3 separate regions of the Homo sapiens genome follow, and all the other regions are linked to region 3. Evidence: fine-mapped expression QTL. A gene starts in region 3. Each other region holds a variant in brackets. All regions are shown on one strand. Distances are between the middles of the regions.

Region 1 (2,757 bases), 740 kb after region 3:
AGATCAGCCTCCCAAAGTGCTAGAACTACAGGCATGAGCCACCGTGCCCAGCATAAAACCAAATATTAATAACGTCATTTGGCCTCAAACATAAGCCATGTTCTCCAACCTAGACTTTATTAATAATGAAAATGACATTTTAATCTTAATCAGCCAGCATCTTTGACTACAACTAAAATAGTTTTGAATTGAAAAGGAAAAGGGGGGCGGAGGTTGTTGATCTCCTAATAGTGGTGACCTTTTGTTTGATTTTTGAAGACTGAGTAGAATAAGGTCACCAAGCAAAGATGTGAGAGAGGACTTTGCAGGAAAGGATAATGAGTACAGAGAAAATTTCGTGATCAAAGTTATGGAAACATTAAAGAGTCTGGTGCACCAGGGAAGTGCCTGGCTGTTGTATTCAGGGTATGTATTGAAATGTGGTAGGAAAAGAGCCTGTTGGGCCATAGGCATGGATCCAGATCAGTGCTAGCTATATTTGTCTTCAAAACAGAGGTTGTTTTTATCATGTTCTCCACTGGTTTCCTAGCGCTTGGAACAGTGTCTGGCTAAGGGAAAGGAATGAAAGACATTTTACACTATGTTTAATAAATTTGCATGTTCCCCTGTAAGTGATAGGGGATTTGGTTCTTCAGCCATTCCCTTTCTTCTGTGAGTTAGCTCATATCATTTTTTCTTAAGTTAAACATGACCGCTTTCTGTTGCTTGCAACCAAAGAACCCTACCTGATTCAGTTGGCACAGTTCATCCCCTTACAGGAGATACATCCCCTGTTAAGGGAGTATCTCTTTTTTTTTGAGACGGAGTTTCACTCTTGTTGCCCAGGCTGGAGTGCAATGGCATGATCTCGGCTCACTGCAACCTCCGCCTCTTAGGTTCAAGCGATTCTCCTGCCTCAGCCTCCCTAGTAGCTGGGATTACAGGCAACCGCCACCATGCCCAGCTAATTTTTTATATTTTTTTTAGTAGAGACGGGGTTTCACTATGTTGGCCAGGCTGGTCTTGAACTCCTGACCGCAGGTGATCCACCCTCCTTGGCCTCCCAAAGTGCTAGGATTACAGGCGTGAGCCACCGTGCCTGGCCAGGAGTATCTCTTACATGAAGAATATCAAGGACATTCAAAGTGCTTTTAGTAGTGGGCCACAAATTCAGAAATCCCTGGGTGTGCAGCCACTGGCATTTAAACTAATGGCAAGTCAAGAGGGTTAGTATGCGTAGTAGATGGAAGTCAAGTGTATGTATTTAAGTCAAGTGTATGCAACATATGAATGAGCAGAAACATTAAACGTAACCTTTAGGAAAAGACAACAGGCAAGTGCAAACAAAAAGAAAGC[G/A]GACTATGCATTATTCATATCACAAAATAAATTCAAGGAAAGCAAAATCTATTTAGATATTTACTAAAAGGAGAGCACTACGTAACAGAGCTTATGGGAACGGGCCAAATCTCCACTTACAAGAAGATTAACAACCTTAAATTTCTTTATTGTAGAACTAAGAATGAAAATACCTGAACTGAGCAGTCAGTTCAAGAAAAATGACAAAAAGAAGAGAGCAGACTGAATGAGAATTTGGCCACAGTCCATTTCATAGGTGTGGGACAGGGAAAGGAAAAAGGGCCTCTCAAATGCACAAATAACATGATCAGAGAGGTGCAAGTACAACCAAGGGAGCTCAGTTTCACAGAACCAAGGGGAACAGAGTTTTTTGGTGTTTTTGTTTCAGACAGTGTCTTGCTATGTTGCCCACACTGGTCTTGAACTCTTGGCCTCAAGCGATCCTCCTACCTCAGCCTCCCAAAGTGATGGTGCTGGGATTACAGGTGTGAGCCACCATGCCAGGCCATGGGAAATGGAGGTTTTTTTGTTTTTGTTTTTGTTTTTTTTGAAACAGAGTTTCACTCTTGTTGTCCAGGCTGGAGTGCAATGGCGCAATCTCAGCTCACCGCAACCTCCGCCTCCCGGGTTCAAGTGATTCTCCTGCCTCAGCCTCCCGAGTAGCTGGGATTACAGGCATGTGCCACCATGCCCAGCTAATTTTGTATTTTTAGCAGAGACAGGGTTTCTCCATGTTGGCCAGGCTGGTCTCGAACTCCCAACCTCAGGTGATCTGCCCGCCTCGGCCTCCCAAAGTGCTGGGATTACAGGCGTGAGCCACCGAGCCCGGCCTGTTTTTGTTTTTGAGACAGGGTCTCACTCGTACCCAGGCTGGAGTGCAGTGGCATGATCTCAGCTCACTGCAACCTCCGGCTCCTGGGCTCAGGGATCCTCCTACCTCAACCCCCCAAGTAGCTGGGACTACAGGTGCAAGCCACCACACCTGGCTAATGTTTGTATTTTTGGTTGAGACAGGGTTTTGTCATGTTGCCCAGGCTGGTCTTGAACTTCTGAGCTCAAGCAATCTACCCACCTCGTCCTCCCAAATTGCTAGGATTATAGGCGTGAGCCACCCATCCAGGCCAGGAAATGGAGTTTTAATGAATAAGTGAGGAGCTGCAGAAGGGAGGGAGTAATCAACAGGGTCAAACAAAAAATGAGATCCGATAAGAAAATGTCTTAAATTTCTACAGAGCTTGGCAATTACCAGTAAGAGATCAGCAGGATTTATTCTGAGCTTTCCATAGAAAGAAAATACTTTGGCAGAATTAAAGGGAAGGACACTAGAATTGTGGTCATTTCTCATGTTTGCCATCCAAAGTCTCCTTAGACCTCTTACGCTACGTGTACTCCAATTTTTCCGGGGAAGAGACATCCTTTTTT
Region 2 (2,720 bases), 98 kb before region 3:
TTCTCCAAAACCCCTCCCTAATCCCTGTCCCCCCACCTTTTTTGAGACGGGAGCTTGCTAGATTGCCCAGGCTGGTCTTGAACTTATGGGCTTAAGTGATCCTCCCGACTCAGCCTCCTGAGTAGCTGGGATTACAGGCGTGCGGGCACCCTGCCTGTTTTGAGGAGAAAAAAAAAATCCACATTTCTTAATATGGTATAGAAGGCCCGTTGTTTTGGCTGTTGCCTGCCTCTCTGGCCTCATCTCCTTCCATGCCCAACCTCACCCCCAGTATTCATACTTGTACCTCATGCTGCATTCATAATGAGCTACGTGCAGGAGCTGGAAATAGCCATACTTTTCTTAAAGCTTCCACAGTTTATGCATTCTGTTCTCTCTCCCTAAAATGCCCATCCCCTTGGCTGATTCCTGGTGGCCTTTAAGACTCAGTAAGTGTCAGCTTTTCTGGGAAGCCTTCCCTGGCCACTTCTCTTCCCACCGCCTCACCTAATAGGTGCGTGTTCTTGGTGCGGGCTCTCACCCTCATCCTAGTCCCATGGTATAACTGTTCTTATACCGGTTTGGCGCCTCCGCCGGTCTGTGAGTCCTCAACAGAAACGACTGTTCTCAATTCTGAATCCCCAAGGCCTATCACAGCACCAGGCATAGAGTTGGCACTTCATGAACATTTGCCAGATGAGTTTTTTATGTACCAGTTTCTGGGTACTTATCAAATATACTAATACGGTGTGGGTCTTTTGGTCTTAGAACCCATTACACTCTTAAAAAGTATTGAAGACCCCCAAACAGCTTTTTTGTTGAAGTGGGTTATATCTACCAATAGTTGCCATATTAAAATGAAACTTGAGAAAAATTTTAAATATGTATCAATTCGTTAAAAATAACAAAAATAAACTCATTACACATTAATCATGTTAACATAATGTTCTAAATGAAAGATAACTATATTCCCATTCCCCGAATTAATGAGAGTATGGAAATTATTTTACATTTTTACGAATCTCTTTACTCTCTGGCTTCCAAGGGGACAGCTGTATTATCAATATCTCCTTCCATATTTGATCTGTTGCTATATGTTGGTTACTGAGACATATGAAGAAAATCCTGTCTCACAACAGATATGCAGTTGGAAAGATTTATTTATTATTTTATTTATTTATTTTGAAACAGTCTTGCTCTGTTGCCCAGGCTGGAGTGCGGTGGTGCGATCTTGGCTCACTGCAACCTCCGCTTCCCAGGTTCAAGCAATTCTCCTGTCTCAGCCTCCTGAGTAGCTGGGACTACAGGCATGCACCACCATGCCTGACTAATTTTTGTATTTTCAGTAGAGACAGGGTTTCACCATGTTGGCCAGGCTGGTCTCGAACTCCTGACCTCAAGTGATCCGCCTGCCTTGGCCTCCCAAAGTGCTGGGCTTACAGGCGTGAACCACCA[C/T]GCCTGGCCTATTTATTATTATTATTATTTGTTTATTTTTTTGAGACAGAGTCTCGCGCTGTCACCCAGGCTGGAGTGCAGTGGGGCGATCTCAGCTAACTGCAACCTCCGCCTCCCAGGTTCAAGTGATTCTCCCGCCTCAGCCTCCCGAGTAGCTGGGACTACAGGCATAAGCCATCACACCCAGCTAACTGTTGTATTTTTTGTTTGTTTGTTTTGTTTTTTTGAGACGGAGTCTCGCTCTGTTGCCCAGGCTGGAGTGCAGTGGCACAATCTCGGCTCACTGCAACCTCCGCCTCCCAGGTTCACGCCATTCTCCTGCCTCAGCCTCCCAAGTAGCTGGAACTATAGGCGCCCGCCACCATGCCCAGATAACTTTTTATATTTTTAGTAGAGACGGGGTTTCACTGTGTTAGCTAGGCTGGTCTTGAACTCCTGAACTCAGATAATCTGCCTGCCTTGGCCTCCCAAAGTGCTGGGATTACAGGCGTGAGCCACCATGCCGGGCCTGGCATATTTATGTTTTTTTGAGACAAGGTCTGGCTCTGTCACCCAGGCTGTAGTGCAGAGACACAATCACGGCTTGGCTCACTGCAGCCTTGACCTTCTGGGCTCAAGTGCTCTCTCCGCCTCAGTCTCCTCCAGTAGCTGGGACTACACATGTGCACCATCATACCCGGCCCTTTTTTTTTTTTTTTTAAATAGAGATGGTGTGCCACTATGTTGCCTAGGTTGGTCTCAAACTCCTAGGCTCAAGCTACCCTCCTGCCTCAGCCTCCCAAAGTGCTGGAATTACAGGCCTGAGCCACTGTGCCTGGCCGATAATTGGCAGTTTCTTAAGGGGCAGTTGCAATGTAGAATGTGAAACCATATCAGTGACCTTTTTGTACTGTTAAACTAAAATCCGTTGTTTTGGCCAAGTGTGGTGGCTCACGCCTGTAATCCCAGCACTTTGTGACGCCAAGGTGGGTGGATCACCTGAGGTCAGGAGTTCGAGACCAGCCTGGCCAACATGGTGAAACCCTCCCGTCTCTACTAAAACTACAAAAATTAGTCAGGTGTGGTGGTGGCACACGCCTGTAATCCCAGCCACTCGGGAGGCTGAGGCAGGGGAATCACTTGAACCTGCGAGGCGAAGGTTGCAGTTAGCCGAGATTGCACCACTGCACTCCAGCTTGGGTGACAGAGCAAGACTCTGTCTCAAAAAAAAAAAAAAAATCCGTTTTTCTGAACTGCACCTGATTGGATCTTTTACCCATGCATAATTTTGTAACACCGTGCATTCG
Region 3 (2,743 bases):
AATTTTGTCATTTTGGATTTGCTTGTCTCATAAAACAATGTGTAGTTGCTTAAAAATCAACTATTCTATTTGGTTGACTTGGTCTAAAGTATTTCTCATGTTGTCTCGTCATTCTTTTGACTGTTCCTTTTTTTTTTTTTTGCCTTGGCCAGATAGGACAAAATTCCTTTTCACTGCAGTATTGGGAGCCTGGAACTAGAGTTACCAACCCCTCTGCGTTAAAGAAGGAGCTGTCCTGAGGCTTCCATCTCTACTGGGCTTGAGGCAAGAACATTGTTAGGGACGGCCTGCTCTTGGCCTCTGTGCCCCAGGGATTGCAAATGCATGTTCCTCAAAGGTAAGGGCTGTATCATTCGGCTTTCTTTGTATTCACAGGTACAGCTTGTGCTAGGCAGCCGGTGTTCAATAAATATCGTGCCTAAGGATAAAGTGGCATTGTCCTTAATTTCCCCCACCAAACCACTAGGTGTCGCCTTCATCTCAGGGAAACCATGCCCGTCCTCGCCCTATACACTCCCACCCCACTCCAGGGCTCCAGGAGCGCTCTTAGCTTGTGATTTCTGGAGAAATAGCTTGAAGGGGGGAGAGAAACCGTGGCTCTTAGCGCGGGCAGAGAATGGGCTTATGTGCATGTCCTTTATGACAGTTGGAGAAAAATCCCCAAGGTCCCATAGCAGTCCCTCTCAGCCACCATGAGATCATCCCTCACAAGCTGTTCTTGGGGTCAGATTGGCACTCCAGATATGAGGGCCCTAGGGAGAGCTTCCTAAGGGAAGCTGGGAGCAAGGTGGAACCCCAGGAGAGCGTGGATGGGCTTCCACTGCGGGGAGTGTCCCGCCGGTCCGTTACAGGCTTTCCCCAGGCGCCAGCCTGCGCTGTGCAGGAGACAAAAGAAAATCGAGGCCCTGACTGAGCAGATGGTGCGGAGGAAGCCGGGCGGGCTGCGGTGGGCCTCTGAGGACACGAGGAGGGCAGGGGGCATGGAGACAGCGGGGGGCCGAGAGTTGAGTCCCAAGCAAGAAGGAGCCTCGTGGACTTTCTAAGGACTGGTGGGAAGTGTACAGCAGGGGCCCCTGGCTGCTGGAGGGGCCCGTCCAGGGAGCGGGCATGGTCCGCGGTGGAGTAAGCCGCACTGCCGTCGGGAGGGCGCTATGGTTTGCTAGGTGAGGGGGCTGGTGAGGATACCACACGTCTGGGGATCCTCGACTGCTTCCTGGAGACTGGAACCACTGAGGGACTCAGGGAGTTCAGAGGGGAGACCCAAGAAGAACGGGCTGAGCGAGGGGGAGAGGACAAACCCTGGGGTCGCTGGCGTGTGTGAGATGGAAATGGAAGGAGGGGCGGCAGGGGGACCAGGGGCGTGGGGGAGACCAGGGTAGGCCCTGAGAGTGAGGGAGCGCCCGGGAACCCTGCTGGCCGGCGAGGCCTTGGTGCGGAGCCCCCAAGTGCTCACCGGGGTGGGTTTGGGACCTGGCGGTCCCGAGCGCCCGGGTGGGGGGTGGGGGAAGGCAGCCGGCGCCGGAGGGTGGGGCCGGGAGGGAGGAGGAGAGGCAGCGGGGGAGGGGCGGGGGCGGGCGGCCTGCCCGGGGGAGTCGCACTCGGCCGCCGGCGCAGCGAGCGGAGACGGGCCGGGCCGAGGCGACCTGACCCGGACGAGCGGCGCGCGCGGGGCCCAGGCGGGGGGCGGGAGGAAGCGCCGGGCAGCGCCGGCCGCCAGGGCCCAGGAGAAGCGGAGCAGAGAGGAGCGGGGACACGGGCGGGGCCGCCGTAGCTCCGGATGGGACCAGCGCCCGGGCCCGTTAGTCCAAGCAGGAGCTCCGGGAGAATCCTTCACAGGGAGATTTACCCCTGCCTTCCCCTGCCCTCCGGCCCAGGCCTCGCTTCGCTCCCCGCCTGCCCATGATCCCAGTCCTTCCGCGGCGCGGGCACCCTCCCACCTTACCCCCTTGGTCCTATGTGGCGCAGCGCCCTCCTGCCCTCCCGGCCCTTTCAGCTGTGAGGTTCCCCCAGGCCGTTTCTTTGTACCACCCGCCCCCCACCCCCACCCCATCCCAGTCCCAGATCCCCTTTTCCTTCTCAGCTTTAGATTTATCAGGCTTCTTCACCTCGCACTGTCCCCATCCTGGCCGCAGGCCCCCTCGGTCCCTCCCTCCCCCTGCCACCCCGTTCTCAGTCCTCAGTCCTTGCCCTAGGCTGGTAGCCCACTCCTTGCCCGCCCCCCGCCTTCCTCCCATCTCCCCCTCCTCTCCCCGGCCCCCAGCACCTTCTGCATCCCAGCCTACCTAGCCTACTCCTCCTCTTCCTGGCCCTCTTCCCCAGGCTCCAGGCTGGGGGGTGCTCGCGTCTCCCCTGTAGGCCAGAGCAGCCCCAAGTTCTGGGGGCGGTGGGGCTGCTGCTTTATCCCCATGGCGCTGCCATCACTTCTGCTGTTGGTGGCAGCCCTGGCAGGTGGGGTGCGTCCTCCCGGGGCGCGGAACCTGACGCTGGCGGTGGTGCTGCCAGAACACAACCTGAGCTATGCCTGGGCCTGGCCACGGGTGGGACCCGCTGTGGCACTAGCTGTGGAGGCTCTGGGCCGGGCACTGCCCGTGGACCTGCGGTTTGTCAGCTCCGAACTGGAAGGCGCCTGCTCTGAGTACCTGGCACCGCTGAGCGCTGTGGACCTCAAGCTGTACCATGACCCCGACCTGCTGTTAGGTCCCGGTTGCGTGTACCCTGCTGCCTCTGTGGCCCGCTTTGCCTC

The links. PIP is the estimated chance that this variant, and not a neighbour inherited with it, causes the effect. A credible set is the group of variants that fine-mapping cannot tell apart.
Region 1: its variant is the best candidate, but not a certain one, in a credible set for the expression of NPR2 in lymphoblastoid cells (GTEx, PIP 0.77).
Region 2: its variant is the best candidate, but not a certain one, in a credible set for the expression of NPR2 in spleen (GTEx, PIP 0.58).

What each region holds. Positions count from the first base shown.
Region 1 is chr9:36,525,600-36,528,356 of GRCh38, forward strand. No RefSeq gene overlaps it. Among named protein-coding and RNA genes, the nearest start is that of MELK, 46 kb to the right of the region's middle. The variant G/A (reference allele first, on the strand shown) is at 1,336.
Region 2 is chr9:35,691,673-35,694,392 of GRCh38, forward strand. No RefSeq gene overlaps it. Among named protein-coding and RNA genes, the nearest start is that of TPM2, 3.1 kb to the left of the region's middle. The variant C/T (reference allele first, on the strand shown) is at 1,435.
Region 3 is chr9:35,790,004-35,792,746 of GRCh38, forward strand. It overlaps NPR2 (natriuretic peptide receptor 2), which reads left to right and starts at 1,588. Exons shown (of 22, transcript NM_003995.4): 1 at 1,588-2,743. The coding sequence starts at 2,406. It also overlaps a transcript of RGP1 not described here.